Homo sapiens: one gene and its partners. The protein of the gene in region 1 interacts with the protein of each later gene in a biochemical or structural test. Each region holds a gene or a part of one and is shown in the gene's direction. Other genes may lie near its edges.

Evidence for each region.
Region 2: of the proteins of SEC31A (region 1) and KLHL12, one has a biochemical effect on the other in vitro, tested with the Homo sapiens proteins (3 studies listed by BioGRID, with this or other methods).
Region 3: the proteins of SEC31A (region 1) and SEC13 form a complex in vitro, tested with the Homo sapiens proteins (2 studies listed by BioGRID and IntAct, with this or other methods).
Region 4: the proteins of SEC31A (region 1) and PEF1 form a complex in vitro, tested with the Homo sapiens proteins (one study listed by BioGRID).

Annotation. Positions count from the first base shown.
Region 1 is NC_000004.12:82,881,148-82,888,173, reverse strand, and holds part of SEC31A (protein transport protein Sec31A), read left to right. Parts: intron 1-6,233; 5' UTR 6,234-6,237; coding exon 6,238-6,316; intron 6,317-7,026. UniProt on the Homo sapiens protein: Component of the coat protein complex II (COPII) which promotes the formation of transport vesicles from the endoplasmic reticulum (ER).
Region 2 is NC_000001.11:202,917,226-202,924,251, reverse strand, and holds part of KLHL12 (kelch-like protein 12), read left to right. Parts: intron 1-4,343; coding exon 4,344-4,497; intron 4,498-5,863; coding exon 5,864-6,081; intron 6,082-7,026. UniProt on the Homo sapiens protein: Substrate-specific adapter of a BCR (BTB-CUL3-RBX1) E3 ubiquitin ligase complex that acts as a negative regulator of Wnt signaling pathway and ER-Golgi transport.
Region 3 is NC_000003.12:10,304,113-10,311,138, reverse strand, and holds part of SEC13 (protein SEC13 homolog), read left to right. Parts: intron 1-5,446; coding exon 5,447-5,580; intron 5,581-5,982; coding exon 5,983-6,106; intron 6,107-6,966; coding exon 6,967-7,026. UniProt on the Homo sapiens protein: Functions as a component of the nuclear pore complex (NPC) and the COPII coat. At the endoplasmic reticulum, SEC13 is involved in the biogenesis of COPII-coated vesicles.
Region 4 is NC_000001.11:31,641,860-31,649,381, reverse strand, and holds the start of PEF1 (peflin), read left to right. Parts: upstream 1-4,505; 5' UTR 4,506-4,517; coding exon 4,518-4,541; exon of another isoform or gene 4,542-7,522. UniProt on the Homo sapiens protein: Calcium-binding protein that acts as an adapter that bridges unrelated proteins or stabilizes weak protein-protein complexes in response to calcium.

The DNA of each region.
Region 1 (7,026 bases):
CGAACTTCCGGCCTCAAGTGATCTGCCCACCTCGGCCTCCCAAAGTGCTGGGATTACAGGCATGAGCCACTGCGCCTGGCTAATAGATGTTTTTTTTGTTGTTGTTTGTTTGTTTGTTTGTTTGTTTTGAGACAGAGTCTTGCTCTGTCACCCAGGCTGGAGTGCAGTCGCATGATCTCAGCTTACTGCAAGCTCTGCCTCCCGGGTTCACGCCATTCTCCTGCCTCAGCCTCCCGAGTAGCTGGGACTACAGGCGCCCGCCACTGCGCCCGGCTAATTTTTTGTATTTTTAGTAGAGACGGGGTTTCACCGTGGTCTCGATCTCCTGACCTCGTGATCCGCCCGCCTCGACCTCCCAAAGTGCTGGGATTACAGGCGTGAGCCACCGCGCCCGGCCTAATAGATGTATTTTTGAAGTTTCGTGGTGGTAGACGTTTTAAGTAGTGATGTTTGTAATAACTGTCATTTATGAGCATTTGTTTATATATGCCAGGCACTGTTCTAACCACTCTGAGTAATACCACTTATTTCTCACAACAACCCTGTAGTATAGATACTGTTCTCCTTATTTTAATGAGAGAGGAGCCAGGACATACATGGATAAAGCGACATGATTAAAGTCAGAGGTGGACATAGTGAAGCTGGAATTTAAACTGAGGGTGTCTGCCCTAGACCCCATGCTCTTAATTGCCGTGCTATAGATACTGTCTTGGAGATGGCATGTATGAACAAGCCCACACAATTTTCTTTTCCTTTCTTTTTTCTTTTCTTTTCTTTTCTTTTCTCAATGTTTTCTTAGAACATTGAGTACTAAGGCTAAGAAATAAACTTTAGTAAATGCTTTGAATTCACATTTAACTATTTTATGTTCTTATAAATGTGTCTCTTTCTTTTTCAGTCAATGTTACACATTAACCAAGCATTAATGAATTAGGTAGTCCTTGTACTTAGGTCTTAGAAATACTATAATTGTATTCCATTTTTTTAATAATACAGCTATTTTGATTTCACTTTTAGAAATTATTCTGAAGGCATCTTATAACCTTTTCCCCCTTAACCATACTTTCTCCTTTTTTAAAAAGTAAATGATCCTTTAAAGAGTTAAGAATTTAAAAGTAAATGTTTTATCTGAAACTGGTCACTCTAGCTCATTAGTCTACTTGTTTTCCCCTAAATATAAACATTTAAAATAAATCAAAACTTTCTGTATATCTCCTTCTGTGCTAAGCAATTTTGAGTCTAAAAAGGGGTAAAAGTTTTGAAAAAAGACGTTATTTGTCTAGTTGGTGAGATAAGATAGCACATAAGGCAACTGGTTAAAAAAAGGTAATTGGAAAATATGTAAACAATATGTGCTAGTAGAATGTTACAAAATGTTTATTAAAATATAATGACGTTATTATAAAATGCTTAAATCATAGTATTGACAAGTACAAACTTGTCGGGGAGTATTTAGATCAATGTGGATTGAATCATCAGGGCAGTTTTCATGGAGGAGCTGGAACTTGAATTTATTATTAAAGATCAGGTGAGACAGTTGGCAAAGAGGAAGAAGAGGAGATTCATGTAAGAAAATAAATGCCTTTTTTATATCTTAGAAAGTTGGAATTTTTCCCCCCAAATAACCCTGAAGTTTTCTTGTTTAATCTCATGATAGTGGTAATCTTTAAAAATAGCAAACCTATCAAAAGCACTAACCCATGTGCTGAGCACTTTTTTTGGCTCCCTATTATAAAACGTATGATCTCATTGGAACCTCACAGCATCCCATGAGGTTGTCACTCTTTTCCCTATTTTACGAATGTAGAAACTGGGGCTCAGGGAGGTTAAATAATGTGTCCAAAGTATCATAGCTAATAAGTAACAGAGCCAGTAGTTAAATTGAGGATTAACTCCAGAGACCATGCTTTTAACCATGTGATACATCCTGCCTCCTAATCTCACTTTGCTCTAACCTAACACAATTTCTAAAATGCATTTCTTCAGTTTCATCATGCATGCTGGTTGCTTTGTTATTGTTTCTTCTAAATGTTAATATTTCCTCTATGATATAAAAATTGAATACCTGAACTTGTTGGAAGTAGAAAGAACTCTGGAGCTAAACTTGCAAGTTCCAATCTTGGCTCTGCCCCTTGCCCCCTTGCTAGCATGTACAGATTGTCTAACTTTCTGTGTCTTAATTTTTTCCTCTATAAAATCTCCTTCAAATATAAACAATTTGCAGGTACAAGACTCGGAGCATATGTTTAAGGCAATCTTAAGGAAAATGTTAGAGGATAAACTCTGGAGCTGAGTAAGGAAACTGGCAAAAATACTCTTGGAGAGCATTGAGTATGCATTTTAACTGCAGGACTGAGACTGGAACAAAAGTGAGAATGAGGAAGAAAGAATAAAATGTAAATGTTAAATGTCCAATAATGTAAGGGATTGATTATACAACTAATAAAAAGAGAAGAGGAAAGAAATTGGAGGTAGAATAAGTTTGTGAATTGCCACATCTGTAATGGCTATGAGTCAAAGGACATCATTTAAAGCTGACAGATCAGTTAGTAGAAGTATAAGGAGTTCAAAGGTAAACACTGAGAAAGATAATACTATTGACTATAACCATGTTGTGTGGATGGGCAGTAAGATTATACAAGCTAATTTCATAAGTGCTCATAGTAGGGAGTTAATAGTTTCTGTGTAAAGAAATAGAGGATTAATGGTATTAAGTAAAATATTTAAAATTACAGTTAAAAAGATAGAATCAGAAACACATATTATAATGAAAATATACATCATCCTAATTATCAGAAAAATGGTAATTGCACAAAAAAGAAAACAGACAATGAAAGACTTTTTAAAAATTATTACCCAAAGATATTAAACCAAAGTAAAATATGGTAAAACTAAGACCAACCATGTCTGTCATGTCAATACATTTTAAATGTCCTTAGCTAACCTACTGTGAAAAGATTTTCAAATTGGATCACCAGTAAAATCTGTTGGTTTTTTGTTTGTTATTTTGTTTGTAATGATGACAAAGTAGTTCTGAAGGGCAAAAGTATACATGTAAAGGCAAACAAGAGGTGGAATTCAGACCAAAAGTCATTATTTGAGACAAAGAAGGATATTCATAAAGCTAAAGTGTATATTTGACAGTGAATTTGAACATTATGGATATGCACCAAATAACTATTAAATAACAAAGTAATTTTCATAAAGCAAAAGTTTCAGGAGATACCATGAGAAATTGACATAAATATATTAGCAGTAAGAGACTTAATTCACTGTTTCGGTCCAAGGCAGATCAAGTGGACAAAAAAGTAAGGATATAGGAGATCTAAACAAATCAATAAAGAGGACTTAGTTAATATATATTGAGCTCTAGGCCCTGAAAACAGAGAGCACCCCTTCTTTCTAGGTCCCAAGAACAATTCACAAAAATTCACTATATAGGCTCTATTGAAAGGAAAGGAGGAATTATAGGCATAGGGGATTTTAGGACAAGGGAACTACTCTGTGTGATACTATAATGACAGATACATGTTGTTATACATTTGTCAAAACCCATAGAATATACAACACCTAGAGTGAGCCCTCATATAAATTGTGGAGTTTCAGTGATAATGATGTGTTCATGTTAGTTTATGGATCGAAACAAATAGACCTTTATGATGTGCGATGTTGGTGGTGAGAAAGGTTATGTGGTTGGGAAATGTGTAGCAATTTTTTGTACTTTGTGGCTCAACTTTTCTAGGAACGTAAAACTCTAAAAGATAAAGCATATAGCTTTTTTTATTTTTAATCAAAATCCTATGAAAGGTGAAAAGAAATTTTTTTTTTGAAAAAAGCAAAGTCAAAAGATAGTCTATCAACTTAATAGAAAAATTGTCGAATGATGGCCGGGCGCAGTGGCTCACCCCTGTAATCCCAGCACTTTGGGAGGCTGAGGAAGGTGGATCACCTGAGGTCAGGAGTTCGAGGCCAGCCTGGCCAACATGGTGAAACCCCGTCTCTACTAAAAATACAAAAAAATTAGCCTGATGTGGTGGTGTGTGCCTGTAATCCCAGTTACTTGGGAGGCTGAGACACCAGAATCGCTTGAACCCGGAGGCAGACGTTGCAGTGAGCCGAGATCGCCCCACTGTGCTCCAGCCTGGGTGACAGAACGAAACTCCATCTCCAAAAAAAAAAAAAAAAGAATAGAAAAGAAAAATGGTCAAATAATACATGACTAGACAGAAGAGATGACAGAAAAGGAAATATGTTTACCCATAGTCATACAAAAAAAAGATGTTATACATCATTTATAGTATTACTATACAGAGCTAACATTTTTATTTTTCTCTTTTTTTTTTTTGAGTCATGGTCTCACTCTGTCGCCCAGGCTGGATTGCAGTGGCGCAATCACGGCTCACTGCAGCCTCAACTTCCCGGGCTCAAACAATCCTTCCTCCTCAACCTCCCGAGTAGCTGGGACTACAGGCGTGCACCACCATGCCCAGCTAATTTTTGTATTTTTTCTAGAGATGGGATTTCACCATGTTGTCCAAGCTGATCTTGAACTCCTGGGCTCAAGCAATCCACTTGCTTCGGCTCCTAAAGTGCTGGGCTTACAGGCCTGAGCCACTGCACCTGGCCTTTCATTTTTTAGTGTTGGTATGATCTAAAAGTGTGACAGTATGCTCTGATAAGGCTGTAGGGCAATAAGTAATCGTATATTACTGTTGGTGGTATGAAAAGGCACAATTGCCATAGAGGACAACTTGGTAATATTCATCAAAATTAAAATTGCATTAACCTTTTAACTTAGCAATTTTACTTCTGGAAATTTATAGCTGTCCCTTTTTAATGAAATAACGTGCAGATGACCATTTATTTCAGCACTTTTTTGTAAAAATAGCTAAAAACAGCTTAGGTGTTTGTTGGTATTAGACTAGGTAATTATGGTACATCTTATAGTGCAGTACTATGCCATTTCAATATATTTATGTAAAAATAACAAAGATCTTTAAAAAGTACATAATACTATACCGTTGTAATTTTTCCATCAAAGTAACTTTTTTTTTGAGACCGAGTCTCGCTCTGTTGCCCAGGCTGGAGTGCAGTGGCATGATCTCGGCTCAATGTAACCTTCACCACCTGGGTTCAAGTGATTCTTCTGCTTCAGCCTCCCAAATAGCTGGGATTACAGGCATGCACCACCACACCTGGCTAATTTTCTTGTATTTTTAATAGAGACGGGGTTTTGCCATGTTGGCGAGGCTGGTCTCGAACTCCTGGCCTCAAGTGATCCAACTGCCTCGTCCTCCCAAAGTGCTGCGATTGCAAGCATGAGCCACCATGCCTGACTCCATCAAAGTAACTTTAATGACAGAAAATACGTAAACAAGTGGTATATGGGATTATACCTTGAAGTGACCAGTTTTCTAATAATTTCTACTTTATCTTTAAAATCTGTGGGCTTACTATATTCTCTCTAATATGTTGTAACTTTGAATTAATTTTTTAAACTGCTCTTATCATTGAGTAATCCTACTCCAGGAAGTTGCACCTTATTTATTTTTTGGCTGCTCTTACCCGTAATGTTTTGTCATCCATCCTAGTTGGATAAACACATGTGTAGCAAAGTTAATTCTTCAGGTACTACCTTATTATTTTTGTGGGCTATTTTTCTAGACTGATTCAACTGAAGAACTATAATCTGTAAACAGAATAGCCCAGTATTTGTCTCAAAATGGTTTATCAAGTTTGTCTTTTTTTTTTTTTTTTTTTTTTTTTTTTTTTGAGATAGAGTCTTGCTCTCTCGCCCAGGTTGGCATGCAGTGGTGCAATCTCAACTCACTGCAAGCTCTGTCTTCCGGGTCATGCCATTCTCCTGCCTCAGCCTCCTGAGTAGCTGGGACTACAGGTGCCCGCCACCACGCCCGGCTAATTTTTTGTATTTTTAGTAGAGATGGGGTCTCACCATGTTAGCCAGGATGGTCTCAATCTCCTGACCTCGTGATCCGCCCGCCTTGGCCTCCCAAAGTGCTGGGATTACAGGCATGAGCCACCCGGCCTCAAGTTTGTCTTCTTTCTAATGAATATATCCAACAAATGACACCTAAACCGATTTGATTTATTTGCAGTTGGGCATTACTAATGTTGTAGTGGTTTGTTCAGTATGTTTCTATTTAAAATATCTGTGTTCTGTGTTAGACATTCAAGTCATTCAAGGCTGTTTCTGTATAAAATATTCCCTTTAGCAGGATGAAGTTAAAGGAAGTAGATCGTACAGCCATGCAGGCATGGAGCCCTGCCCAGAATCACCCCATTTACCTAGCAACAGGTAAGTTCAAAGGAGAGAAGATAGTATGAGTTACCTAATTTCTTCTCTTCTGCACCTAGCTTATTCAGTTTAAGCTTTATCTTCTCTAGAAAGCCTCTCTCTCCCTGGCAAGTTACTGACATTCTATCAGCCAAGTTTAGTGTTCTTCCTCTGTGTTCCCATAGCATTTTGATCATGATGTGTTACATCTAAAATATTTTCCTTCACAGGAATTGTATTTTATCTTTATTCCTCCAGTATTAAGCACAATAGATGGCATGTAAAAAAAACAGTTAATATCAGTTTGAATGAATGAAGAGCAATTTTGATGTTAGCATTTTTATATAAAAAGAAATAGTTATATCATATATGTCTATAAGCAGATATAGTAAATCACGGGACTTTTTTTTTTTTGAGATGGAGTCTTGCTCTTTCGCCCAGCCTGGAATGCAGTGGCGTGATCTCTGCTCACTGCAAGCTCCACCTCCCTGGTTCCTTCCATTCTCCTGCCTCAGCCTCCCAAGTAGCTGGGACTACAGGCGTCCACCACCATGCCTGGCTAATTTTTTGTATTTTTAGTAGAGATGGGATTTCACCATGTTAGCCAGGATGGTCTTGATCTCCTGACCTCATGATCCACCCATCTCGGCCTCCCAAAGTGCTGGGATTACAGGCATGAGCCACCGTGCCCAGCCCCCATCACGGGACCATTTTTACAGAGATTTTTAAAT
Region 2 (7,026 bases), on another chromosome or scaffold:
CATAAGCACTTAACAAAGGGAATTAGGAAAAGGTTGGCTTGAGAGAATACAGGTAGTGCTCACAAAGTATTAAGAAACACTACTTAGTAATTGCCTGACAAAATACTTGAAATGTATAGTAAGGCTGCTGAATATATTGTGTTGAATATTCTTAGAAAGCTGAACAGAAAATAACATTGCAAATCTTTGTTTTTCAAGATCCCAAGTCTCATTTTAAGAGCAGATTTAAATAAATTATCTTGATTTATTTTTTCAAAGCTCAGTTGTGGGTGCATCACTGTTTATTATATAATTTACACTTACATGTATGCCTGAAATATTTCATTATGAAAACACTGTTTTAAAAGTCTTTTTAAGCACAAGTTTTTTGTTTGTTTTTTGTTTTTTTTTTAGTTAGTTCTATCATCTTAGTGTAGATATTGCTGCTGAATCAGAATGGGAGAGGCGTATTCTGTGATGGTAATAACTACCTTTTATGGGCCAGGTACTGTGCTAGTAATTGTTGTGCATATCTGACTCACCCTAGGGGTAGGTATTACCATCTCATTTTACAAATGAAGGAATAGGGTTTCAGATATTAAATCACTTGCCCAAAGTCCCATGGCTTGTAAGTGCTAGAGGTGGGATTTCATTTTATATTTTCCAACTCTAAAGCCCAAACAGTTTGTAACTCTTGTGCCGCCTTAGCCTCCGAAGTATGAATTTTATATACTACAATCTAATTTTAAAACTGGTATAGTTAAAAATACTATGAGCCAATGCTCAGTCACATGGCTAGTAGGGAAAACAGGAACCTGACAGGTCATTCCAACTAATTCAGGCTAATTTTTAAATAAACTTGTGTGATATACCAAGGCAGATCCCTGTCCTATACTGTTCTCCATGAGATATACCCAAGATCATCAGAAGCATTTGGAATTTAACTGGGTAAAGAGAGTGTCACCCAGCAGCTGCTGAGCAAGAAATGAACTAGAACGGCTGATTGCTAATTATATGTTGTGCATCCTGTTTTTTGTCAGCTTGAAAATAGTGTCTTTACTCTTTTGTTATTTGGAAATGAATTCTTTTTTTCTCATCAGTGATGATTTCTTTCTTTAAAAACTGACATCAGGCAAGGAAATGCTAGATGGTTTTGTCTTTATTTTTGAGAGTAATTGTTCAAAGGAGAGAGTCCAGAGACCTGGATTCTAGGCTTAGTTCTCTTAGCAATTCTGTATAAACCCTGGGAACCATCTAACTTCACTGGGTTGATCTGTAAAATAAAGTAGTTGAACTAGATGGTTTCCTTGTTCTCTTCAGCTATGAAATGCTCCTCAAATGTCATCTGATTGAAAGATCACAAAGACTGAGGCAGGAGGACCTGGGTTTTGTCTCTCTCTCTCTCTCTTTTTTTTTTCCTGAAATACTTTAATAAGAATGATATCTGTCTCTTACTAGCTAAGTGACTGGTTAAGTCTTGGATCTTCAGCTGGGCGTGGTGGCTCACGCCTGTAATCCCAGCACTTTGGGAGGCCGAAGCAGGTGGATCACGAGGTCAGGAGATCAAGACCATCCTGGCTAACACGGTGAAACCCCGTCTCTACTAAAAATACAAAAAATTAGCCGTGCGTGGTGGCGGGCGCCTGTAGTCCCAGCCACTCGGGAGGCTGAGGCAGGAGAATGGCGTGAACCCGGGAGGCGGAGCTGGCAGTGAGCCCAGATCACGCCACTGCACTCCAGCCTGGGTGACAGAGCGAGACTCTGTCTCAAAAAAAAAAAAAAGTCTTGGATCTTCTTTGATCTTTAGACCCTTTATCGCTCTCTCTTTTTTTTTTTTTCCTTGACGCCTGGCTAATTTTTTGTATTTTTAGTGGAGACGGGGTTTCACCATGTTAGCCAGGATGGTCTCGATATCCTGACCTTGTGATCCACCCACCTCGGCCTCCCAAAGTGCTGGGATTACAGGCTTGAGCCATGTGCCCGGCCCCCCTTTATCTCTTAGATAGTAATAATATCAGACCTAACTACCTTACCAGGTTGCTGTGAGAATCAGATGAAATAGTAGTAAATGAGAAGCATGCTGAAAAATTCTAAAGCAAAATATAACTGTAAAATGTATAATTGCTCTAAGTTCTTACATAGTGAAATTGTTTCCATATTTAAACTATTTGATGGAAATGTAGTTTATTGAATGAGAAATTTCTGGAATACATGTACTTACATATTTCAGTACCATAATTATTAAATGCATTTAATGTGTTGGGATAGTAATTGTTTATGAATATTAGTACTGTATTAAATGTTAATAAAACCTAATATGTTTTTTCAAAATAATGTGCTAGTGACTTTTTTAGTGTTAGGGATTGATTTTGTTCTTGGCTTTGGTAGAGAGTGCTTTTTGGTTATTCTCTGGCTGATGGAGAAATAAAAAACGTTAAAGCCATTTAGTTAATAATGGAGATGCACCAGAGTTTTTTAAGTAAAATGAATTTCTAAACTAAGATTAAGATCTAGTAAAATTTTCATAAGGTATTTTCAGATAGTTTCCTGTAAAATTGAAGATTTCTTCTCTTAGCTAAACAGTTTTCTATGATTATCTGGCCTCATCAATACTCATAGCTTCAAGAAGATATACTACTAACAATTTAGACTAAATATACTGCTAACAATTCAGTTAGTCTAACCCAATATTTTGAAAAAGTAACAAATAATTTATTTGTATTCAGATGATGTTACATAAGAAAGTCCCTTAGGATGACCTGCATGTTCTTTTTCGTCATTACTAAATGCAGTCTAAGGGCCGGGCATGGTGGCTCACGCCTGTAATCCCAGCATTTTGAGAGGCTGAGGTGGGCAGATCACTTGAGGTCAGGAGTTCAAGACCAGCCTGGCCAACATGGTGAAACCCCATCTCTACTAAAAACACAAAAATTAGCCAGGCATGGTGGCATGTGCCTGTAGTCCCAGCTACTCAGGCGGCTGAGGCAGGAGAATCGCTTGAACCTGGGAGGTGGAGCTTGAAGTGAGCCAAGATTACGCCACTGCACTCCAGCCTGGGCAACAGAGCAAGACTGTGTCAAAAAAAAAAAAAAAAATTAGCTGGTTGTAGTGGTGTACTCCTGTAATCCCAGCTACTTGGGAGGCTGAGGCACGAGAAACACTTGAACCTGGGAGGCAGAGGTTGCAGTGAGCTGAGATCACACCACTGCACTCCAGCCTGGGGAACAGAGCAAGACCCTATCTCAACAAAGGGGAAAAAAAAGTAGTCTAAGGACAGATGATAGGAACTAGGTAGTCCTGGAGAGACTGGAGTTATAACCCACAGGCTCCTCTACGAACATGAAATTTCTTTGAAATATTGTGTCTTATCTTAAAAGTTCACGGACCAGTGTTATGTTCATGGAACTTTTGCATTCTATTCTGTAAATACATCTGTATTTTAATATGAAATAGATTTTTAAAGTTATTCACTGGCAAAATTACTATTCCAGGAAGGTGTTACCTATTACTTATTCCTGGCGTATAGATAACTACCTACTTCATTTGGAAAGCTACAGATAATGTGCCATATTTGCTTTATTAAAATCCAACAAAATTGGCCGGGCGCGGTGGCTCACGCCTGTAATCCCAGCACTTTGGGAGGCTGAGGCAGGCGGATCACGAGGTGAGGAGATCGAGACCATCCTGGCTAACACGGTGAAACCCCGTCTCTACTAAAAGTACAAAAAATTAGCCGGGCGTGGTGGCGGGCGCCTGTAGTCCAAACTACTCGGGAGGCTGAGCCAGGAGAATGGCATGAACCCAGGAGGTGGAGCTTGCAGTGAGCCGAGATGGCACCACTGCACTCCAGCCTGGGAAACAGTGCAAGATTCCGTCTCAAAAAAAAAAAAAAAAAAAAAAAAATCCAACAAAATAGAGCATAATTTTATTTTTTTATTTTCTTTCTTTTTTATTTTTTTGAAATGGAGTCTCACTCTGGTGCCCAGGCTGGAGTGGAGTGGCACAATCTTGGCTCTCTGCAACCTTCGCCTCCTGGGTTGAAGCAATTCTCCTGCCTCAGCCTCCTGAGTAGCTGGGACTACAGGCATGTGCCACCATGCCCAACTAATTTTTGTATTTCTAGTGGAGACGGGGTTTCACTGTGTTGGCCAGGCTGGTCTTGAATTCCTGACCTCAGGTGATTTGCCTGCCTTAGCCTCTCAAAGTGCTGGGATTACAGGCATGAGCCACCACGCCTGGCCTGTAATTTTTAAAGATAAATGTTCAATTAATATTATTAACATCTCTAAGCTCTTAGATATGAGATTCTGCCTTTATCTTGTGGAATTATAACCATCATTCTTTTATACCTTTTGAATTTTCAGCTCTCAGAGAAGGGGAAACCTTATGTTGACATCCAAGGTTTGACTGCCTCTACCATGGAAATTTTATTGGACTTTGTGTACACAGAAACAGTACATGTGACAGTGGAGAATGTACAAGAACTGCTTCCTGCAGCCTGTCTGCTTCAGTTGAAAGGTACAGACATTAAAACTTGCTATTGTTTATGTCAAAATAGCCCTGGAAAGGTTGAAAATTAATAGTGTAAACTTAATCATGAACATTTTGGAGACAAACTATGGATGTTCATGTTTGCTGGCCATGGCTTTTGTCTCATTGAGCAATAAGAGATCAGATGTCAATAGCACTATAAAGGAACTTCTCCAGATATGAGTATTTGGCTCTATAAAAGAGAGCATTTGCACCTTTTCTGTTTTAAAAAAAAAATGGAGGAAGGAGAAATTATGTGTTTTCTTACATACATGTATGTAACACACCTATAAGGAAATATAATAAAAAAGTGATACTATACATAGCCTACATGGATACTCTTTATCTATCTGGCCATTAAGTGGTAGTATTTCATTAAGATACATGAAATTTAAATTGATGCACAAAATATTAAAGTATGATATTTTCACAGGATTACAGGTGGTTTGTTTTCCCTTACAATTCCCAGGTTTTTTGTTTTGTTTTTGAGACAGAGTCTCACTCTGTCACCCAGATTAGAGCACAGTGGTGCAATCACAGCTCACTGTATCCTTGAATTCTTGGGCTCAAGCAATTCTCACACCTCAGCCTCCTGAGTAGCTGGGACCACAGGTGCATGCCACCACACCCAGCTAATTAAAACAAAATTTTTTTGTGTGGAGATGAGTTCTCTCTATGTTGCTCAGGCTGGTCTCAAGCTCGTGGGCTCGAGTGATCCTCCCACCTTGCCTCCCAGAATGCTGGAATTATAGGCACGAGCCACCGTTCCTGGTCCCCAGTTTTTCTTTTTTAACATTCAGTTATGTTTTCAGTTTTTATATATACATAATTGACACACTTTTAGTTTTTAATACATGATTTAAACAGTGTGAAGCTTTTGCATTAGTGCATAGCCATAACATTAAAATACTCTGAACTTTTCAATTAGATAAATATGAGATTTGTTATTACTATCTTCTCCTTTTCTTTCACTCTAGTCTTTTAGTAAGTTTTCATGTAGAGTAGAAAATGGATACATTATGCTGAATTCGCAATTGGTTTTATAGTTTGATTCCCAAGAGTTTTATAGGCATTTTTGTTGAATTGTGCCAGGTCTCTGGATGTGATTCATCTTGCAATACTCATTTTAAAGATTAAGCAGAGACAGGTGTAAAGGTCTTGCTGAAAGTGGCACAGTACATAAGCCAGAAATAGAGTTTAAGTTCCTTAAGCATAGAATTTCTAATCTGTTTCTTAGGTGTTGAAACAAGGGTTCATCTGATAACATGTAGAGAAGATGCTGAGATACAAGAATATATCCTAGATCACACCTGTCCAACTATTCTAAAGTGTTTGCTGCCTGTGTCTGTCCTAGGTGTGAAACAAGCCTGCTGTGAGTTCTTAGAAAGTCAGTTGGACCCTTCTAATTGCCTGGGTATTAGGGATTTTGCTGAAACCCACAATTGTGTTGACCTGATGCAAGCAGCTGAGGTTTTTAGCCAGAAGCATTTTCCTGAAGTGGTACAGCATGAAGAGTTCATTCTTCTGAGTCAAGGAGAGGTGGAAAAGCTAATCAAGTGCGACGAAATTCAGGTACGGATTTGTCTTGATGTTATGGTTTCTTCAAGATTGGGCAATTACAAAACTTGCAAATAGGATGCAGTTACTTACCATCAGGGCTTCATAATTAAGTGTGCATTTTGGCTCAAAGATTTCATTAACCCCTCCTGTACCAAATTTATTTGCATTTTTATGGAGAGGGAGTTTGCCACTTTCTTCAATTAGATATATGATCCCAGTGGGTAAGAATCACTATTCAACAGAGTATAGAATAAGCAGAAATTGGAAGTAAAGTAGGTATCTGTAGACCACTTCTCTATTACCCGTTCACTCATTTCACAAACATTTATTGAGAATATCTACTATGTAGCACTTAACTATGCCAGGTGCTACAGATCCCCAAGTGGGTAAATATAGTTCTTGCTTTCAGAAAATTCACAACCTGCTAGTAGAGACAGAGATATAGACAAAAAAAATGTTATAAAGAGGATCATGAGAATAGTGAGCCTATACAAAGTAAGGACATTACATAGAAGAAAGAAGAATAAACCTTTGCTCAGGAGTGGATCAGAAATGAAGAGACAAAAGTTTGGAAGTGAGGATCTACAGAAGCAGGAGCCAAATCATAACTGTCTTGTGAGGATGCAGCGGTTGGAAGGGAGGGACACATGAACTGGATGTTAAAGGAATAGTAGGCCAGGTGCAGTGGCCTATGCCTGTAATCCCAGCACTTTGGGAGGCTGAGGCAGAACTGCTTGTGTCCAGGAGTTTGATACTAGCCTGGGCAACATGGCAAAACCCTGTCTCTACAAAAAAATAAAATTAGCCTGGCATGGTGGTGAGCACCTGTGGTCCCAGCTACTTGAGAGGCTGAGGTGGGAGGATCTCTGGAGCCTGGGAGTTTGAGGCTGCAGTGAGCCATGATCGCACCACTGCACTCTAGCCTAGGCAACAGAGGGAGACCCTGTCTCTTGCGGG
Region 3 (7,026 bases), on another chromosome or scaffold:
TTGTGTGAAAGGAAACCAGAGTACCAGGAGAGAGCCCACGCAGACACAGGGAGAACACACAGACTCCACACAGGCAGGGGCCCCCGCTGGGAGTTGTTTTTTTTTTTTTAATCTTGTCAGCATTATAATGAAATGAAATTGAGGATCAGTTGTACATAGAATGAGACAATCTGTGGTCTTTTGTGACTGGCTTCTCCTACTTACTATAATGAGTTCAAGTTTCATCCATATCATAGCGTGTATCAGCACTCCATTCCTTTTTATGGCTGGATAATACTCCATTGTGAATATAGACATTTTGTTTATCCATTCATCAGATGATGGATGTTCTCGGCCTTATGAATAATGCTGCTATGAACATTTGCAGATAAGTTTTTGCATGAACATATGTTTTTAATTCTCTTGGGTCTATACCTAGGTGTGAAATTGCTGAGTCATATGGTAATTCTGTGTTTAACTTTTTGAGGAATTGCTAAACTGTTTTGCAAAGTAACTGTACCCTTTTACATTCCCATCAGCAGTGTATGAGGGTTCTAATTTCTCCACATCCTCACTAACATATGTCTGTCATTTTGGTTACAGCTGTCCTAGTGAATGTGAGGTGGTATCTTATTGTGATTTTTTGGGTTTGTTTTGTTCTGTTTTTTTGAGACGGAGGCTTGCTCTGTCACCCAGGCTGGAGTGCAGTGACATGATCTCGGCTCACTGCAACCCCCGCCTCCCAGGTTCAAGCAATTCTCATGCCTCAGCCTCTTGAGCAGCTGGAATTACAGGCACACGCCACAACACCCGGCTAATTTTTGTATTTGTAGTAGAGACAGGGTTTCACCATTTTGCCCAGGTTGGTCTCAAACTCCTGGCCTCAAGTGATCCGCCCACCTCAGCCTCCCAAAGTGCTGGGATTACAGGTGTAAGCCACCACACCCGGCCCTTATTGTGATTTTTATTTGCATTTTGCTAATCAAAGATGATGGTGAGCATCTTCTGGGGGCCTTTGGAGAAATGACCAGGAGGGGTTTGCACTCTGTAACACCGAGTGAGTGGAAGCGGCCCACAATAAGAAAGGCTGAAGGGGCGGGAAGAAATCTGAGCTCTGTGATCCTCCAGAGCAAGCCTCTGGGACAGGGCCCCTCAGGAGGAAGAACTGCAGGAAATGAAATCACAGTTGAGCTGGATAGGGACACAGGAAAGGAAGGATGAGATGTAGACCAATGTGGGGAAGAGGAACAAAGACAGGAACTCCTGAAAGCCATCTCCCACGTTTTTTAACACCACACAGAAACAAGGGAGAGTTCTGAGCTTAGACTTTCCTGAGCCTTTCTTATCAGGAAAACTCATCTCACCTAAAAATAACAGAAAAGTATTTGAAGTGAAATTGCATACAGTTGTTATATAAGAAACAAGAATATGCAAAATAACCTCCCTGCGGACAATGAGAGCACATTAGAAAGACATGCCCACATAACCGAGCCAAGCTGTAACCTGCTATTTCAAATCAAGCCAGGTGACATTCTAACAATACAAAACAAGAGAGAATAGTGTAAATCAACTTTTTAAAAATCAGAAATAAGGTGACAGAACTCAGGAAAGAATTAGAATTAAAAATCATTTCAGAAGTAAAGAAAGACTAAGACGAAATGCAAGTGTCGATGAACACAGCAGATCCTGCCTGAAAAGGATAAACAGTGTGAAAAAGGAAACATTTCAAGAGCAAAAAAATGAAGAGGTAAAAAGGTTTTGACCAAAAGTAAAGACAGGCAGAAAGGTCAGACATACGAATACCAGGAGTCCCTGGAAAGGAAAACAGAATACCAAAAAGTAATCCAGAAAACTTTCTTAAAATTAAAAAACAAAGATTTGAAACTTGAGATTGAGAGATCATACCCCACACTTAACAATATCAGCCGGGCGCAGTGGCTCAGCCTGTAATCCCAGCACTTTGGGATGCTGAGGTGGGCGGATCACCTGAAGTCAGGAGTTTAAGACCAGCCTGACCAACATGGCGAAACCCCGTCTCTACTAAAAATACAAAAATTAGCCAGACGTGGTGGCGCACACCTGTAATCTCAGCTACTCGGAAGGCTGAGGCAAGAGAATTGCTTGAACCCGGGAGTCAGAGGTTGCAGAGAGCCAAGATCACGCCATTATAATCCAGCCTGGGCGACAAAGCAAGACTTGTCTCAAAAAAAAAAAAAAAAAAAAAAATCAAGGCCAGGCGTGATGGCTCAGCCTGTAATCCTAGCACTTTGGGAGATCGAGGTGAACTCCTGTTTGAGGCCAGGAGTTCAAGACCAACCTGGCCAACATAGTGAGACCCCGTCTCTAAAAAAAAAAAAAAAAAAAAAAATTCAACTCAGCATCACCAACAAAAAGATATAATTCTAGTAAAATTATTAGACTTTAAAGAAAATTTTGGGGGGTTCTAGAGAAAAGGAACCTTGTGACTTAAAGGGGAAAGACAATTAGATTATTGTCAGACTCTTCAATAGTAAGGATTGGTGCAGAAGAAAAAAGAATAACATGTTTAAAATACTCCAGGAAAGAAAGTGTGAGCCAAGGATTTATAACCAGGAAAATTGACTTTGAAGTTCACACAAAGACTTATACACAAAAGGTTATAGCAGCTTTAATAGCCAAAAACTGGAAATAGTCCACATGTCCATCAACAGGTAAATGATAAGTTGTGATATATCCATACTTTGGAAATACTGCGAGCAATAAAAAGAAATGACTGCAATAAAAAGAAATGACTTAACAAAATAAGATGAAGAATAAATTTCAAAATAATTATGCTGAGTGAAAAAAAGAAGAAAAAGGACACACTGTGATTCCACTGCTGTAATATCTAGGAAATGCAGCTGAGCAGGCCCATGGTCACCACGATTGGGGGCTGCAGGATGGGGAGATGGATTACCAGGGGATCCGAGGAAACTTTTGGGAATGATGGGCATGTTCCTTATCTTGATTGAGGTGATGTGATGATCCTACAGGATATATTTTTGTCAAAATTCACCAAATCATGCACTTGATATGCAGTTTATGTCAATTATACTATATCAAAGCTGTTTTTAAAATTAGCTTTTGAGTGTAAAGGATATGAACTATTATCAATATGCAAGAATTCAGGGACTATTGTTTCTAGGAGCCCTTCCTGAGAAATCTACTAGAGGATACAAGTCACACAACTAAAATGACTACAAAGACTTCAGCATAAATATATAGTTACTTGTAGAGAACTAAGACGAAATGAGGGTTAAAAGGCTGGGCCCAGGGCAGGCACAGTGGCTCACACCTGTAATCCCAGCACTTTGGGAGGCTGAGGCAGGCGGATCACCTGAGCTCAGGAGTTCAAGACCAGCCTGGCCAACATGGCAAAGCCCCATGATGTGGTTTGGCTGTGTCCCCACCCAAATCTCATTTTGAATGCCCATGTGTTGTAGGGGGTAACCAGTGGGAGTTGAGTCATGGGAGGAGGTCTTTTCCATGCTGTTCTCTTGATAGTGAATAAGTCTCACAAGATCTGATGGTTTTATGAAGGGGAGTTCACCTGCACAGGCTCTCTCTCCCTTTTTGCTGCCATCCATGTGAGATGTCACTTGCTCCTCCCTTGCCTTCTGCCATGATTGTGAGGCCTCCCCAGCTACATGGAGCTGTAAGTCCATTAAACCTCTCTTTTTTTTGTAAACTGCCCAGTCTCAGGTATGTCTTTATCAGCAGCGTGAAAATGGACTAACACACCCCGACGCTACTAAAAATACAAAAATTAGCCAGGCGTGGTGGCACACACCTGCAGTCCCAGCTACACGGGAGGCTGAGGCAGGAGAATCACTTGAACCTGGGAGGTGGAGGTTGCAGTGAGTCAAAATCGCGCCTCTGCACTCCATCCTGGGCAACAGAGCCAGACTCTGTCTCAAAAAAAAAAAAAAGGCAGTGGCTCACACCTATAATCCCAGTACTTTGGGAGTCTGAGGTGGGAGGATCACTTGAGCCTACGAAGTTTGAGGCTGCAGTGAACCATGATCTTACCAGCCTGCACTCTAGCCTGGGTGACAGTGAGACCCTGTCTCAATTTTTAAAAAAAAAAATTGTTAATAATAAATAAAGAGGAGAATCAGTCATCTTTGGAAAGTGATAGAACCAGTTCAGAAAGAATCAAGCGTTTATCCAGCCTTTCCTTTTTGACCTTGTATTAGTCTGTTTTCTCGCTGCTGGCAAAGACATACCCAAGACTGAGCAATTTACAAAGGAAAGAGGATGGAGAACTCACAGTTCCACGTAGCTGGGGAAACCTCACAGTCATGGCAGAAGGCAAGGAGGAACAAGTCACAGCTTACGTGGATGGCAGCAGGCAAAAGAGAGAGCTTGTGCAGAAAAACTCCCATTTTTAAAATCGTCAGATCTAGCGAGACTTATTCACTATCATGAGAACAGCATGGGAAAGACTTGCCCCTGTGATACAATTACCTCCTACCAGGTCCCTCCCACAACACGTGGGAATTCAAGATGAGATTTGAGTAGGGACACAGCCAAACCATATCAGACCTCTATCCCTGGGTAACTGAATAGTTAATGAGAAGAAGTGTCCCTATCTGGAGCATTCCATGGAATAAATGACAAAGAAAGGATGGAATTAGAGTATCACCATTTTACAAGCCCCAGTGAATTAAGAGAGGCCTGAGTTATTGACAGCTGTTAATATAAGAGACAATCTAACGTGCCTCCTGATGAGAGAACGCACCAGCTCTAGTCTTGCCAAAGGGATCACACCTGAGTCTGTCCAGTCTTGGCTCCAGCTGACAGTTTTCAGGAATTCAGAGGAACATATTGAACTGCATATGAAGCAGCAAAACCCAGACCGAGAGACTAGGCTCTCTTCAGCAGAAAAATTGTAAGGAAAAAAATCAGAGGAGGAATCTGCAAAGTAGGAGATGTAAAAAACATCCAAAAAAATGTTTAATGGACAAGACTAAACTATAGTATCTAGGGGTGCACATTTGGGTGATAAAATGGGGGGAAAATGGGTTAGAAGTTAGGGCAGTGGTTACTTATAGTGGAAGAGGGAGCTGTGATTAGGAAGGGCATAATGACAGGGCTTTTCAGGCAGGTGGCAGAATTCTTGTTTCTTGATCTATTACTTTATAATAAAAGATTTTTCTTAAAAAAAAGCTCCAATGTACCATTCTTTCATGTGTTTAGAAAATGTCCTGTTTCTTAAACTTGTGGGAGTTCTTAATTTCTACTTTTAGCGCACACTGCAGAAAAATGCACACACTGTTGGGATCCTTGAGGGAGAATTCTGAGCAGTGGACCCCATGATGAGTGCTTCATGTCAGCCTTCACACACACTCCAGTCCTGAGAAGCGGAGGGGAGAGGGACAGCAGGCTTGGGTCTGCAGAAGCAGTGTTCTCTTGCAAGGCAGAGTCACCATGTGTCCCATCTTTACAGATTGGCTGCAATGCCGTCAGCTGGGCCCCTGCTGTTGTACCTGGAAGCCTCATAGACCACCCATCGGGGCAGAAACCCAATTACATCAAGAGGTTTGCATCAGGTGGCTGTGACAACCTCATCAAGCTGTGGAAGTAAGTAGGGATGTGTGGCCTTCTCTTTGAGGGGACACTTCTACCCTTTACCCTACTCACCATGACTCAGCCACACTCACAAGAAACAAGGTCACCTTTCTTTCTCCCTCCTGCCAGTAAAATACTGTTTTCAATCTGTTGGAGGACATCCTTGAAAAACAACACAACACCTGTTCACCTAATTCCCAACTGTTGGAGCTGACTCTTTGGCTGTGGAAGCAGAGCATTTTCTGGAGGGTTTTTTTTACAGCTGGGGTGAAGGGAATAAAATGCCACAAACTCCATGAATGAAAGAAGAAAGATGGAATCGCTTCTCCACCCCAGGCAGAGCCTGTTGGGTTGGGGAGGAGTTGAGGTGTGGGAACGGCCCCCTGCTGATTCTCTTTCTGTCCCCACTGTTAGGGAGGAGGAGGACGGCCAGTGGAAGGAGGAGCAGAAGCTAGAAGCGCACAGTGACTGGGTTCGAGATGTGGCCTGGGCCCCCTCCATCGGCCTGCCCACCAGCACCATCGCCAGCTGCTCCCAGGTCAGCCCAGGGCCATGAGTATCCCTTGTCATTTAGTCTCGAGTCAGGCCCATCAGCTCTTAGTCTCCTTAGCAGAAAGTCCTCTGGGAAGGTAAAGGGAGAGCAACAGGCACCTTTGGCCCAGAGCACAGGGAGTCAGGTCATTGTGTGGGGAAGTCTTGGTCAGAAGCCACAAGTGGCCTGCCTCCACTGAGATGAGACAGCTACAACAGAACCGGCACCAAGAAGGAGGCGGATTCGGGATGAATTTTCCCTTCTGACCCATGTGAGACTAGGGCGCCGAGGTGCCCAGGTGCAGTTCCAAGTGTTCCCAAGCAACGATGGGGTTGGATGGGAATTATACGCTTAGCTACCAAGCCACCCTTCCCAGACAGCAAGGACGGCCAAGGGTGAGCCTTCAGTTATACACCACCACCCTAGAGGGAGCCAGCTAGGCCTTTCACATCATGGGAACCTGTTTGGTTTGGTTCTAAACTTGGGATTTTTGTGCTTTTTTACTTGTGCCTTCTCATTCTTGGAGCTTGGTTTTTGGAGAGCTCTGCCCATTCAGTTGAGAAGGTATAGACGGCCAGTGGAAGTGACTTGGCAGGCATGAGGAAAACCCCAGAGAAAATCTGAGTTAGCAATGCAGACAGAGTCCACCTCCGAAACCCGGATGAGAAAAGGAATCCGGGAGACTCTTAACCAGTGTGAAGAGACAGAAACAAAGCTGTGGACGCCCCAGAGGTCCTCGGCTCCCCTTTGAATCCCCCACCCTGTTCCTGCAGAGAGGTGCCGGGTGGCTCTAGACTGGGAGGACATCACATCACAAACGCAGGAGTCTTGACTCCACCTCCTGACTCTATCCTGTTTCTTCCTAGGATGGTCGTGTGTTCATTTGGACCTGTGATGATGCCTCAAGCAATACGTGGTCCCCTAAA
Region 4 (7,522 bases), on another chromosome or scaffold:
GCTGGTCTTGAACTCCTGACCTCAGGTGATCTGCCTGCCTCGGCCTCCCAAAGTGCTGGGATTATAGATGTGAGCCACCGTGCCCGGCCATGGATATTTTTTTTTTTTTTTTTTTGGTGCTGGAGATCCCAAAGGACTAGATCTTTTTTGTGGCTGTCCTGAACAGTTTATGGGAATAGACGATGTCAACGTACTCTACTTATGATCCCATAATGGAAGGGGAGTGTGGCCAAATTGCCACGTCTGCTGTTCTCATTCCTCTGTTGCTTCTGTGGAAAGTTGCAAATCATCCTCTGATCCACAGCATCCAACTGGAATTTAAATTTCAGAACTGGATCTAGTTGGAATCAAAGAGAATTAATTCCATAATAATTAGGTGGGTGTTGGTATTCCTTCTCAGTAAGCCTTACAGAAGCTTGGTGCGAGCCAAGTGGCTCCTGGGAGGCTGTGTCTCTAGGGGAGGCAATATTTTCCAGTGGATGGGCTTTTCATTACCAAGCTCTGCCTCACCCCTAATGGGTCAACCGCAGGGCTTCCACGAACTCAGGAAAGTGCTCTGTGTTCTAAAAAAAGTCTGGAATCCATGCTTTCCCCTTGGGCTACAAGTGAAACAATAACAGGAACTTCTCCACCCACCTCTGTCTGCCTCAGGTAGATGAGGTTTTGGAAGTGAGTTGATTGTTTTTCAGTCTTAGGAAGATCCTGATCTCTCTTTTATCCAGCCCCCTCCAAAACAAACATACCTGGGCCTGTGTGGGTCCTCAGAGGCACAGCCCTGGCTGTTGGCTTTGGCACGTTCCTGACTCCCTAAGAGAAGATGTGGATGCTCCATCCACGAAATAGCACAGACCTCCCACAGATAGTTCTCCTAAGCCCTTTGCTGGGCATAGGGGAATGGGGGCAAATAATTCTCATAGGAGTTGGATTCTCATCACCTAGAACAGAGCCTGGCAAGAGGTGGGAACCCAATGGGATCATATGTTTGTGGAATAAATGAGTGTGTGTCACATGACTCCAGTTTGCAGGCCAGCTTGTCACTGTTCTCTCTCCAGGCAAATACCCACTTGACCTTCAACCTTCTTCCCTTCTGAAGTTTTGCAGCTCAATTCCACCAATATTTTTTGAACTGGGGGGTTAGGAAGGTAAAGAAGACACAATCTACTAACTATTAAATACTGAGTAGTTAAAAAAAATGCAGACCTGGGATCAAGTCCTACTTCTCCATTTATCTTTTTTTTTTTTTTTTTTTTTCCCCAGACAGAGTCTCTCTGTTGCCCAGGCTGGAGTGCAGTGGTGCAAACACAGCTCATTGCAGCCTTGACCTCCTGGGCTCAAGCAATCCTCCCACCTTGGCCTCTGGAGTGGCTGGGACTCCAGACACATGCCACCATGCCTGGCTAATTTTTTAAAACTATTTTTTGTAGCGATAGGGTCTCACTATGTTGTCCAGGCTGGTTTCGAACTCCTAGGCTTAAGCGGTCCTCCTCCCTGCCTCCCAAAGTGTTGGGATTATAGGCGCGAGTCACTGCGCCTGGGCTCCATTTATCTTTTTGATAACAGGAAGGTCACTTAACCTCTCTGAGCCTCAGCTCCTCATTATAAATGGGTAATAGTCTCTATCTCAAAAGACTGTGGTGAAAATTAAACAACACATAGTACTTAGCACAACGTCTGGCACCTAGTAAGCACTCAATACATGATAATAATAACTACTAACATTGAATTCATGCTAGGCACTATTCTAGGTGCTGAGGTTAGAGGACTACATAAGAAAATGACAATTCTACAATATACATGTAAACAAAGTGGACAATTCAACTAGTGACATGTATTATGAAAAAATAAGATAGATGATGGGAATGCTTGGGGGGCAGTGTCAAGAAACTCCCCCCACCCCAGGTGATATCTGAACTGAGACCTGGATGATAAGGAGAAGCCAACCAGTGAAAAGTCAAGGGAAGACTATCCCAGACAGAGGGAAAAGCTAGTCCAAAGACCTGGAGGCAGGAATGAGCAGGCAGTCAGAGACCAGCCAAAGCCAACATCCAGGAATGAGCTCTGTACATTCCAGGAATGGCACAACCAGGCCGGCATGGCTGGAATGAGGCAAGGGGGACAGCAACAGCAAGAAATGAGGCTGGAGATGCTGGTATGTGTGGCCATGAATGTCATTAGGATGAGTTTAGCTTTTATTATAAGAGTGATGGGAAGTCCCCAGGGAGTTGAAGCCAAGGAATAAGATAACCACTCTGGCTGCCTGTGGAGAAAATGAAGCGTGGGGAGAAGAGTGAGAGCAGGAACATTGGTCAGTCGGCTATTGTAGTGATCCAGGCACGGATGATAGTGTCTTGGACTACAGTGATAGTGCGAACAGGGAGAAAAGAGCAGATGTGTACATGTTTGAATTAGAGCAAATGGAGATGAGGGAGGTGAGGGAGTGTGTGGAGAAAAAAAGGACACACAGGAATGATCTTAGGTTTTTGGCCTGAGAGACTGGGTGGATTTTCTGAGATGGAGAGGAATGGGTTTTGGGGAAAACACCAAAAGAAAACTCTTATACAAGGCAGGCTGGAATACCACACAGTGACAGTACCAAGTGCAAAGGGGGAGTGGCAAGAGAGAGTGGCTAACTCTGGAGCTAAGGGGAATGTGGGAGGGTTAGGTGGAGAATGGAATTGGAACTGAGCCTTGCAGGACTGGAGTTGGGAGGGCTGCTGGTCCAGGTGAAAGGAGTGGTTTGAACCTAAGTTTGGGGCATGAGCAGGTATAATAAGCTCATTTTCAAATTTACACATTTGTTCCTGTCAGCTAAGAAAAGTGAAATTTAGAGAGGTTAAATAACTTGCCTAAATAAAATGTGGTAGATATACACTGTGGAATACTATGCAGCCATAAAAAAGGAACAAGATCATGTCCTTTGCAGGGACGTGGATGGAATTGGAAGCCATTATCCTCAGCAAACTAACAGAGAAACAGAAAACCAAACACCGCATGTTACCACTTATAAGTGGGAGCTGAATGAGGAGAGCACATACACCACTGGGGTCTGTCGGAGCGTAGAGGGAGGTGGGAAGAGGGAGAGCATCAGGAAGAATAGCTAATGGATGCTGGGCTTAACACTTGGGTGATGGGATGATGTGTGCGACAAACCACCATGGCACACATTTACCTATGTAACAAACCACATCCTGCTCATATACCCCTGATCTTAAAAGTTGGAAATTAAAAACAAACAAACAAAAAACCTGCCTAAGGTGATACAGTTAGAAAGTGATAAAACAAAGATCCTCCCTCCAAAGCAGAAGTGCTGAATGGTGGAACTGAGCACAGAAATACAGAGTAGCAGAAGGGGCCGTAAGATTGGAAAGTTGAGGCTGGGCCAGATTCTGAAGGGCCTGGAGTACCAGAATGAAGAGATTGGGCCTTATTTTGTAGGCGTGGATGAAGAGCATCCATTGTAGGCTGTGTAGTGGGCAAGTGGCATGATCAGCACTGTGATTTTGGAAAGTGCACTTGGTTAGATAGATGGACTAGACTGGATAACAGTTCGTAACATTCATTTATTCATTTATTTTAATAATCGTGTCAGTCGCTATACTAGGTACTGGAGTTATAATGACAAGCAAAAACAGACAAAACCCTAGCCCACATGAAAGAACTTGACAAAGAAATCAAATAAGCACACAAATAAGTGTAGAAACGGAACCACTGAGTGGCAAGTACATGGTGCTGAGATCACTCGGTCACCAGGATTTGACCTACGATGGGGACCGACCTAGACCTCCCTGCTGAGAACTGGACATCCATTGACCCCGGTTCTAGGCGACCCACTGTGAGCTAGGGCAAGGCAACTGCCTCTCTGCACCTCAGTTTCCCCATTTATGAAGAAAGAGGCACTAGATAATTCAATTTTCCTCCAACTCTAATGATCTGGGGTTTTTTTCTCCAAAGACCACAGATCTGTATCCCACTACAAGGGTACTAACTGGTACCCAGTACCTTGACATTAGAGGAGTAATTCCGCCATCGCCTCTCCCTACCGGGAAGAGTCGGTCGGTTCCCCGTTGTCAGGGCAACCGCCTGGCCACCGCCCCTCGTCTCCTTTCCCGCGGCTCATCTGCGGAAACTCAGGAGCTACTCCAGCAATTACGTCACTATCATGCGTCCCATTTGCCAGGTTATAACATGGCTACCGCAGCAACACCCCACCCAGGCTTCTCACTAAATTTCCCAACCTGACCACCTCTTCGGCCCACTCCACCTCAGGAAAAGGAGGAACATTAGCGCTGGTACAGCCGCCAAGACTTCCGGAAGCTCCATCAATCACTTAGCTCCCCTGGTCTCTCGGGTAGGCATCCGCCCACCGCCCCCATCGTCACTTCCGTCGGCCGACAGCACCCAAGATTGACAGGCGCGGACGTCCAATCAGATGCGGGCCCAGCCCCAAAGCCGAGACGAGGGGCGGGTTTGAGAGCGGAAAGCCCCACCCCTTGCCTGAGTGTGACGTCAGAATCACCATGGCCAGCTATCCTTACCGGCAGGTGAGTGTGTGAGGGGCCCGCGAATCCAGGTAGCGGCGGTGCCAGGCGCAGGCCCGACGTCCCCCTGCTCTTTCTCCCCGCTTTCTCCGCGCCCTTCCCACGATGGGTTCGCTTCAGCGAGGCCTTGCGCTGTAGAGAACCGAAAAGGGACCGTCGGTCGCGCCCTGCTCACGTCATGAAGGACCGCACATTCGCGAGGTCGTGTCGCGCCCCCTTGACGTCGCTCACTCGAGGATTTGGGGACCTTGGACCCCACAGGTCCAGGCTGGCGCTGGCCTGGGCTCCACAGCCTCCCAAGGCCCTCATGGGGGCCTTGGGCGGGGGCATCAGCCATGACCGGAGGTTTAGAGTTCTGGTTCCGCCGATCTCATTTGGGGCGTCGGATAAAAATCCAGGCTTCCGGACCCACCCCACACTGCATCAGAGTCATCAGGAAACTCTGGTTGTAGCAGGCGCCACAAGTGAGCTGGTTTGACCACTGACTTAGTTCAACACCGCCATTTCGCGTGTAGAAAAGTGAACCCCGAGAAGACACAGAACTTACCTGAAGTCACCAGGCAGTTAGGCAGCAGGGCCGAGGTCAGAACCCGGGCTATCTTCAGATGCCTCTTCCCCAGCGTATCTTGATTCAGTCAGGAATACCGCAGCAAGGTGATTCTGTGGCCAGAATTCTTTGTTGGGTGATAGTAGGGTGTTGAAGTGCACTTTGGTGTCAGAGGTAGGTTCATATCTTAGCTCTACCACCTAAATAGTTGTGAGCCCTTGAGCAAGCTGTTTTGCCTTTCTGAGTCCAAGTTTCCGCCTGTAAAATAGGGCCGAATAATAGGATCTGCCTCATAAAGCTGTTGTGGAGAGTCAGGAGGTGATGCTTACGAAGCGTTTGGTACATAGTGAGGTGTAACATGTGTTGCCCTTTAGCATTTTGATTTTTAGTAGACTTCTAAAAGGCCAGTGCCCGGAGGGTCCTCAAAATAGAGCCCTCATTTTACAGAGGAGGAAATGAAGCCCACAGAGGGCTGCGATCACACAGTTATTTAGGAGATGAAATCCATAAACGAAATGTGGGAAAACAAGATCAATTGGTATATTACACAGTGCTCAACTGAGTTTAGTCACAGGCCAAAAGATGTAACAGTCCTTCCAGGGAGTGCAGTCTTGTGCGGGTTACACAGTGTTTGGACCTCCATTATCCTAATCATGAAGTCCCTATCGGCATGCAGGTATTATTACCCCTAATTAACTGCTGAGGAGCAAACCCAAAGAGGTTAAGTGGCTTCCCAAAAGTCACACGTAGTAAGTGAGGGTGAGGCCATGACCAGAGCTTAGGACTTCTCTTATTGCATCCTTAGAGAGAGGTAGGAAAGAGAGAGGCCAGTGCGGGCTGGAGTTAGGAAGTGTAGCATAGCAGTTGCTTCCTAAAGTCCATTCCATTTGCTGAGTCTTGGGAGGTTTTAATAGATATTGTTAATATAGGAGGATTCTGTAGTTAACTAAAGTTTTGGAAATACTCTTAAGTATAGCTGAATAAGTTTATTGACCACAAGCTATTTCAGAATCCTTAATTTGCTAATGTACATTGTAAATCATCCAGAAAGGAATATAATATGCAGTATTTCTTAAACATATCTAACCATAGAAACTCCGCCTCCCGGCTTTCTTTTCAGATGTCTGGTCACTTTTTTGACTCTAGTATTTCTGAGGAACACAGGCTGAAAAAACATTCATAGCGCCTTGTTTCCCAGTGGCTGGTCTTCTGCCTCAGAATCAGCTGAGAGCTTGTTTAAGAAAGCACACTTTTGGGTCCCACTTCAGACCTGTTCTGTACCCAGGAATCTACATGCTAATAAGCATTAGGGACAATTGGTGTGCATCCTAAAAGCAGTGACAGGTTAGAGAGAACTGTGCTAGAATTCTAGCTGTATTACTTAATAGTTATATACCCCTGGACAAACTAAGGGCTCTGAGCCTCAGCTTCCTCACCTGTATAAAGGGAGAAATAATACCTGTGAAAAGGGCTAAAATGAGGTTAAAATGCAGGGAGCCTGGCGTGTTGCTAGTGCCTAGTACATGCCAGTGTCTGGTGGCAGCTCTTGCTGCCGTGACTGCTCTCATGATGCCATGCTGCCTGGGCTATTCCTGGAGTGAAATACTGAAAAGGAGCACAGAGAGAAGAGTCTGGAATAGAAAAAGAAATGTTGTTTTTTTTTCCTACCATACCCTTGTCCGCCTCCTGGTCTCAGGTGTTCTAAGAAAGGAAACGAGTTGTTTTAAAGCATCTCAGTCAGTGCTGCCTCCCCTCCACCCACTACATAGCTTTGGAGGATTCCAGCCTATTGTTAGGAGTCAGAATTCCTGTAATTTTCCACTGCTTCCAGTCCAGGGTACCCAAGCAGGGACTGGGTATTGGAGTAGTAAAATTCAAGCACCCTTTGGTCCTATGGGGGAACGAGCTTGGTGGATTTCAGTGCTTAAGAGCTTAGTTTTTGAGGCCAGAGAGAGTTGATTTCAAATCCCTGCTTTGTCACTCCCTTGCAGAAGTTTGTTGCAAAAGTCTGAGACTCAGTTTTCCCTTTTTTGAAAAAAATTTTTTATTTATTTGTTTATTTTTAAGACAGAGTCTTGCTCTGTCGCCCAGGCTGGAGTGCAATGGCACAATCTTGGCTCACTGCAACCTCCGTCTCCCGGGTTCAAGCAGTTCTCCTGCCTCAGCCTCCCAAGTAGCTGGAATTACAGGCGCACGCCACCACACCTGGCTAATTTTTTGTATTTTTAGTAGAGACGGGGTTTCGCCATGTTGGCCAGGCTGGTCTCAAACTCCTAACCTCAGGTGATCCACCTGCCTCAGCCTCCCACAGTGTTGGGATTACAGGCGTGAGCCACCACGCCTGGACTAGTTTTCCCTTCTTTAGAATGGGGTCATAATAGTATCTACCTCAGAATTACTCTAAAGATTAAATGAGAAAATCCACGTAAAGTGCTAG